Homo sapiens: one gene and its partner. Changing the gene in region 1 together with any one later gene gives a genetic interaction. Each region holds a gene or a part of one and is shown on either strand. Other genes may lie near its edges.

Region 1 (4,106 bases):
GAGGCTGCTGGATAAATGAGCTGGTTCTAGATTTTGGCAATAATTAGCAGAGAGATGGATTCTGAAACCTGGGGGAGTGGATTAGGTGAGTTTGTGGAGGAAAAAGTTGGGTTGAAGAAAGAACGCTGAACCTGGTCAACATGAAAGAACCCCTCTCTACTGAAAATACAAAAAAGTAGCAGTGTGTGGTGGCCCGCGGGAGGCTGAGGTGGGAGGATGGCTTGAGCCAAGGAGGTTGAGGACGCAGTGAGCCGAAATTGCGCCTCTGCACCCCAGCCTGGGCGACAGAGCGAGACCCTGTCTCAGAAATAAATAAACAGATAAAATTTTAAAAAAGAAACCTGGAAGACAGATAAATGGTGGAAGAGAAACTGGTGAGAGTGAAGAGGAACAGGAAAAAAATCGGGGAAAACCTTTATGTTTATTTCCTACTGTGTAATATGGCACAATATTGTGCTGTACAGTATTGGCCAGCATTTTGTCAACAATCTTTACTTTCTAGAGTCAAGAAATATCTTAAAAGTATAAGAATTGTAGTAAATGTTAGTCTTAGAATTTTGAGATTTGGTGTTCTCCAGGTCGAATGAATGCTCCCTGATCTAGCCTCCCACGGTATATTTCTGTGTCTTTTCTTTCATAAATGCGTGAATGACTCCGGTCTTTGTTATTGGTGGTAGTGTCTCTTGTCCGGAAGCACGGAGAGTACGCATTCATTTCTGTATTTCCCAAGTTTCAGCCACATAATGACCGAAACTTAACAAGTTACTTAACCTCTCCAAACTCCAATATCTTCAAAATAGGATTTGCAAAATGGGAATCACTTTGGCTTTCATAAGGTGGTTGTTAGCCGAAAAGAAAAAATGTGCTTAACACAGTGACGGGAATGCACAGTGGTTGACAATTGGTACTTGCACCGGGCTTAGTGGCTCACGCCTATAATCCCAGCACTTTGGGAGAACGAGGTGGGCGGATCGCTTGAGATCAGGTTCGAGACCAGCCTGGGCAACGTAGGGAAACCCAGTCTCCACAAAAAATACACAAGTTAGACGGTCATGGTGGCGCGCGCCTGTAGCCCCAGCTACTTGGGGGACTGAGGCGGGATGATAGGTTGAGTCTGGGAGTTCGAGGCTGCAGTGAGCCATGATCTCACCACTGCACTCCAACCTGGGCGACAGAGCGAGACCCTGTCTCGAAATTATTTTATTTATTTTATTTTATTTTATTTTTTATTTTGAGACGAAGTTTCACTCTTGTTGCCTAGGCTGGAGTGCAATGATGCGATCTTGGCTCACCGCAACCTCCGCCTCCCGGGTTCAAGCGATTCTCCTGCCTCAGCCTACCGAGTAGCTGGGATTACAGGCGCGCGCCACTACGGCCGGCTAATTTTTGTATTTTCAGTACAGACCTGGTTACTCAATGTTGGTCAGGCTGGTCTCGAACTCCCGACCTCAAGTGATCCGCCCACCTTGGCCTCCCAAAGTGCTGGGATTACAGGCTTGAGCCACCGCGCCCGGCCTCTTATTTTAATTTTTAAAAAGGTACCTGCGAGTTTTAAACAGCTACTCTGGGGCCAGCGTGCTTTTTGATGCGTGCAGGTAAGGATCATTCTGTCCATCTCCTGACACAGAGAAGTCAAAACCTCCGTCCTGGGGTTCGGTCAGTTAGTGGGTCAGATAATCATCTCAGCTCAACCACTACTCCCAACCAGCAGCGGCCACGTCCCCGCGTCGCCCTCAAAGACTACAAGTCCCAGCGTGCCGCGCTCTGGGCCGTGGAAGCCCCGCCTTTTCCGGCGGGCCCCGCTTCCTCGTTGCCCCCGCCGCGGGCGCGAGATGGATTCCGGGTGCTGGTTGTTCGGCGGCGAGTTCGAGGACTCGGTGTTCGAGGAGAGGCCGGAGCGGCGGTCAGGACCGCCCGCGTCCTACTGCGCCAAGCTCTGCGAGCCGCAGGTGAGAAGCTGGGGCCTCTTCGCCTTATCCCGGGCCCCAGGCCTCGCCCTCCGCGGGGCCCCGGCCCCGGCCTCGGCCCCTCCGTCCGCGCGAACGCAAACCCTGGCAGGCTCCAGCGCCCGCCGCGTCCCCCGCCGTCCCTCCTCCTCCACGGGGAAGCGGCTTTCCCAGGCCCCATTCCGGGTCCATGGGCGAGAATCCCCGCGTTGTAAGCGGCTTGACTCCCACTTGGCATTTGGCCGGCCTGGCTGCTGCCGGCTGGTCTCAACGCCCCTGCCCTGCAATCTCCGGTACCTCCCGTTTGTCTTCACTGCTCTTACAGCTGGGCAGTCAGGCCTCCCAAAACGGTGACCTCCGGCAAACCCACTCTCCCCTCCCTCTTCGGCGAGCTCCCCCTGCCCGTACCAACCCCGCGCTGATGGTTAAAGTCCTTCAGTTATATCCGTTTTTCAAGGCACATCTTAAATGTCATCTCCTCTAGGAAGTCTTTTCTGATTTCGTCTTCCAGCCAAATATTTTTGTCTTTGGCCCCCTTCCCTCTATTTAGCTTCTACTTAAAGCACTTGTCAGTATTCCCACAAAGTCCTGAGACCCGGAGTGCTAAATGATCGCACCAGCATGGGTTCTTGATGCCCTTGGCAGTGCCTAACAGTTTTTATTAATAATAGTGACTCCGCGAATATTTTTGAATTAGTAGAGTATTACTTCCTATTCTTTCATGAGTGTAAATAGTTCATCAGTCAAAACTAATATTTATGGAAAATACGGAAGTGTTCCGGGCACTGTGGTGGGTTCCTTCGCATATACTGTCTCATTCGTTCCTCACAATTGTACTGACAAGATGCCAGGCACTCGATAATTACTGAATTGTGTTTTTGGTTATTTCAGTTGCATTTTCTCCTTATCACATACGATCTTTCAAAGTTACCTTCAGCCCTGGATCATGTAGACTCAAAACAGGGATTGGGCTTGGAAATCATGTGGCAGAACATTAAAAAAACTCTGGTTATGAGATAGGACTCTTGAATTCCAGTGTTGGCTTTAACCACTTGCCTTGAAGGTGTCAGCTCCTTATTTGTCCCTTCAGAAAAATAATACATGCTGGCTCACAGAGTTATCGTGGGAGTGAAATGAGATAATGTATATGAAAATACTTTGTCAGATCTGATGTGCTGTACAGGTGCATAGAATTTAATATAAATTCTAAAATGAAGTGATTTTTTTCTTTTCTTTTTTTTTTTTTTGAGGTGGAGTTTGTTGCCCATGCTGGAGTGCAGTGGCGCGATCTCGGGTCACCCCAACCTCCACCTCCCGGGTTAAAGCGATTCTCCTGCCTCAGCCTCCCAGCTAGCTGGGATTACAGACGTGTGCCACCATGCCGGCCTAATTTTGTATTTTTAGTAGAGACAGGGTTTCTCTACTGTTGTTAGCCAGGCTGGTCTCAAACTCCTAACCTCAAGTGATCTGCCCGCCTCGGCCTCCCAAATTGCTGGGATTACAGGTGTAAGCCACTGCCTTTCCCTACGTTATTTATTCAATAGTCAAGCAATCTCAGTCTCACTTTCCTTTTTATCCATAGGATTTAAATCAGTAGAAAAGCAAATAAAGTATCCTAGATGGGCATTTCCTCAGACTTCTCTCCTACAGGTTTTTGGTATTTGGTTGCATTGGAGCCTCCTTCTAGCCTTAATTTCTGTCTCCTTTGCTGAAATTCTAGTTTTTTGCCATTATGACATTTTCATAATAGCACCATATCTATAATTCTTCTTTCCTATGTCCTTTCAGTAAAGAATTGTCAATCCCTATTCCAGTCACACTAAAGTTTATCTACAAGAAAGCATGTCTCATTTTAAAGAACCAATGTGGGCTGGGTGCGGTGGCTCACACCTGTAATCCCAGCACTTTGGGAGGCCAAGGTGGGCAGAGGCAGGATCACTTGTGCTCAGGAGTTCAAGACTAACCTGGCCAGACTCTTGAAGAAGTCTTTTTTTGACGTTTAATCAATTATATTATGGGAAATTGCTTCTGAATATGAGGTGGAAAAGCATAGCTCACTCTGTAATAGGCTATTTTCATGATTTCAAGTGGTTTTATGAAGAAACAGAAAGCAGTGATGATGTTGAAGTGCTGACTCTCAAGAAATTCAAAGGAGACCTG
Region 2 (3,077 bases), on another chromosome or scaffold:
ACAGTGTCCACCTGGGCAGGGTGGGCAGCCCCAGGCCTGTGGGTTTCACCAGGGTGCTGGTGATGGTTGGTGGCTAGCAGGGACTGGGGGCAGCTGGGGGCCCTGGCAGGCTGAGCTCTGCTCCCCGCGTGGTTCTGTGCTGGCATTTCGCGTGCCTGGCCTGAGCCTGGCCCGAGCCTGGCCCTCCTGTGTCCTCACAGATGAGCATGTGGCGGCTCCTGGGCCTCTAGAACCAACCATGGGCCAGGGTGCCCCAGGGGAGCACGGGAGGGTCCTGCCTTGTCAGCTTGCCTCCTACTCGTGAGGTTCCTGCAGTCAGTACCTGGGTGGGGTCCCACCTGCGGCCATGGCAGGTGCAACAGACGTGGTGGAGGGGACACTCCTGCCCAGGCCATCTGCGGGAGGCTCAGCCCCGGGGGGTGCCTCCCAGAGCTGCTGGGGGGCAGCATTTCAGGCTGGATACACCTGGGCCTGACCCGGGGGCGGGCATGGCCTGGGCAGCAGCTGTAAGTGCGTCCCCGTGGTGGGGGCCAGCCAGGTCCCTGTGGCTCTGGGGTTGCGCCCCTCAGCTCAGGCCACACTTGCCGTCTCCCTCCCAGGACAGGTCCCAGAAGAGGAGGCCAGTCACAATGGACAGCGCCGGGGCCTCCCCAAGGCCGTGTGTATGAACGGCACAGAGGCGGCGCAGCTGAGCACCAAATCCAGGGCGGAGGGCCGGGCCCCCAACCCTGCCCGCAAGGCCTGCTCCGCCAGCAGCAAGATCCGCCGGCTGTCGGCCTGCAAGCAGCAGTGAGGCTGGCCGCCTGCAGGTGGGGCGCGGCGGGGCCCGGGTGGGGCATGTGGGGACAACGCCTGGATGCCACAGCCAGCCGTGAGCATAGCCCGCGCTAGTCAGTCATGGTGACCGTCACGTGGCTGCGCGTGGTTGCCATGTGGCCTTTGGGTGGCTTGGCCACGTAGCGATCCCCGTGGAGGGTGCCGTCTCGGGGCCTGGTGTCTGGCCAGCGTGCTGGTCATGGAGGCCTACGTGTGGCGGGGCTCTGGGGGGGCGTGCCGTCCTCACAGCCACCTCTCAGAGTGGGTGCATTCCGAGGACCCTGCCCTGGGCCTGGCGCCCCCTCCCCATGCCCGCGCCGCTTCCAGGAAAGGCTTATGCTGGGCTCAGCCCAGAGGCTTTTGAGCACCAGTGGGTGGTGGGTGGTGGGGAGGGGCCGCGGCCTCCATGGCTCTGCCGGGGTGCCGCAGGCTCTGAGCCAGCTGCCAAGTATGGCTGAGGCTGAGTCGTGCCGGACGCTGCCCTGTCTCTCCCTGTGTGCCTGCCTCCTCTCCCAGCCCCAGCCCCAGCCCCGGGTGGGAGACGGAGTCCCAGAGGTGTCAGAGACCCTTAAGTCACCTGCCGAGGATGCGGGGTGGATGGGGGCCCGAGGCTGAAGCCCCTGCCTTGCCACAGCCCCTCTCCCAGGTTTTGGGGGCCACCGCCTGAGTTACATGTCTGTCCCCCAAATGGGTGCCCACAGCCCATCCACCAGCGTCAGAGCCCGCCAGGCCCCACTGCAAAAGGCCACACAATGTACCCCGGGAGTGACTCAAGGGTGGCCTTCCCTGGCCTCCCCTGCTGCCCCCCAGGAGTCCGGTAGCCCCATGACTGTACCTCAGCTTCTCCATCCTCCCAGGGGCCCGCGGGAGGCGGAGAACCGGTGCCCAGGCTGACCTCTTCCGTCTTCCTTCCACCCTGCAGCCCGTGTCCAGGAGCCCCGCCAGGTGCCCGCGCCAGGCCCTCAGTCTTCCTGCCGGTTCCGCCCGCCCTCCCGGAGAGGTGGCCGCCATGCTTCTGTGCCGACCACGCCCCAGGACCTCCGGAGCGCCCTGCAGGGCCGGGCAGGGGGACAGCAGGGACCGGGCGCAGCCCTCCCCCCTCGGCCGCCCGGCAGTGCACGCGGCTTGTTGACTTCGCAGCCCCGGGCGGAGCCTTCCCGGGCGGGCGTGGGAGGAGGGAGGCGGCCTCCATGCACTTTATGTGGAGACTACTGGCCCCGCCCGTGGCCTCGTGCTCCGCAGGGCGCCCAGCGCCGTCCGGCGGCCCCGCCGCAGACCAGCTGGCGGGTGTGGAGACCAGGCTCCTGACCCCGCCATGCATGCAGCGCCACCTGGAAGCCGCGCGGCCGCTTTGGTTTTTTGTTTGGTTGGTTCCATTTTCTTTTTTTCTTTTTTTTTTTAAGAAAAAATAAAAGGTGGATTTGAGCTGTGGCTGTGAGGGGTGTTTGGGAGCTGCTGGGTGGCAGGGGGGCTGTGGGGTCGGGCTCACGTCGCGGCCGCCTTTGCGCTCTCGGGTCACCCTGCTTTGGCGGCCCGGCCGGAGGGCAGGACCCTCACCTCTCCCCCAAGGCCACTGCGCTCTTGGGACCCCAGAGAAAACCCGGAGCAAGCAGGAGTGTGCGGTCAATATTTATATCATCCAGAAAAGAAAAACACGAGAAACGCCATCGCGGGATGGTGCAGACGCGGCGGGGACTCGGAGGGTGCCGTGCGGGCGAGGCCGCCCAAATTTGGCAATAAATAAAGCTTGGGAAGCTTGGACCTGGCCGTCTGGGTTTTGTTCGCGTCTCAACGTGGATGGGGCGGCAGCGGGGCGGGCGCCGTTGACATGCGGAGGGCAGTGGGGACTCGGGGCGCGGGAGGGCCGGGGCCGGCTCCCTCAGGGCCGGCGGCAGCAGCGGTGGCGGCGCGGTTATTGCTCGGAGGCGGCGCGGGCTGCCGCCAGCACACGCCGCAGTGAGGTAAACGGTCTCGGAGGTCGGCAGTCACGGTGTTGAGCCGCCTCCCGGCCCAGGGCGGCGAACTCGTCTGCGACCGTTAGCGCCCCGCGGCCCCCGCCCGGGCGAGCTCGCGCACGCGCCCGGCACGCGGCGGCTCCATCGGGCCCAGTGGGCTGCGCGACCCTCGGGTGGCGGGCCCTGCGACTAAGCGGCCGCCCCGTCCGGGACTGAGGGCGAGTGATCGTTGTCCTCAGGAGCCCGAAGCTGAGAGCCGTTCACGCCCCTTCCTTCCCGCCCAGCCGGGGTCTCCGCGGCCCGCGC

What was found.
Region 2: changes in C8orf76 (region 1) and STK11 together harm fitness more than expected from each alone (negative genetic interaction), as found in Homo sapiens cells (one large-scale study listed by BioGRID).

Annotation. Positions count from the first base shown.
Region 1 is NC_000008.11:123,239,073-123,243,178, reverse strand, and holds the start of C8orf76 (uncharacterized protein C8orf76), read left to right. Parts: upstream 1-1,801; 5' UTR 1,802-1,832; coding exon 1,833-1,949; intron 1,950-4,034; coding exon 4,035-4,106. Other genes in the region: ZHX1-C8orf76 (zinc fingers and homeoboxes protein 1), read left to right, coding at 4,035-4,106.
Region 2 is NC_000019.10:1,225,855-1,228,931, forward strand, and holds the end of STK11 (serine/threonine-protein kinase STK11), read left to right. Parts: intron 1-599; coding exon 600-793; 3' UTR 794-809; intron 810-1,738; 3' UTR 1,739-2,577; downstream 2,578-3,077. UniProt on the Homo sapiens protein: Tumor suppressor serine/threonine-protein kinase that controls the activity of AMP-activated protein kinase (AMPK) family members, thereby playing a role in various processes such as cell metabolism, cell polarity, apoptosis and DNA damage response.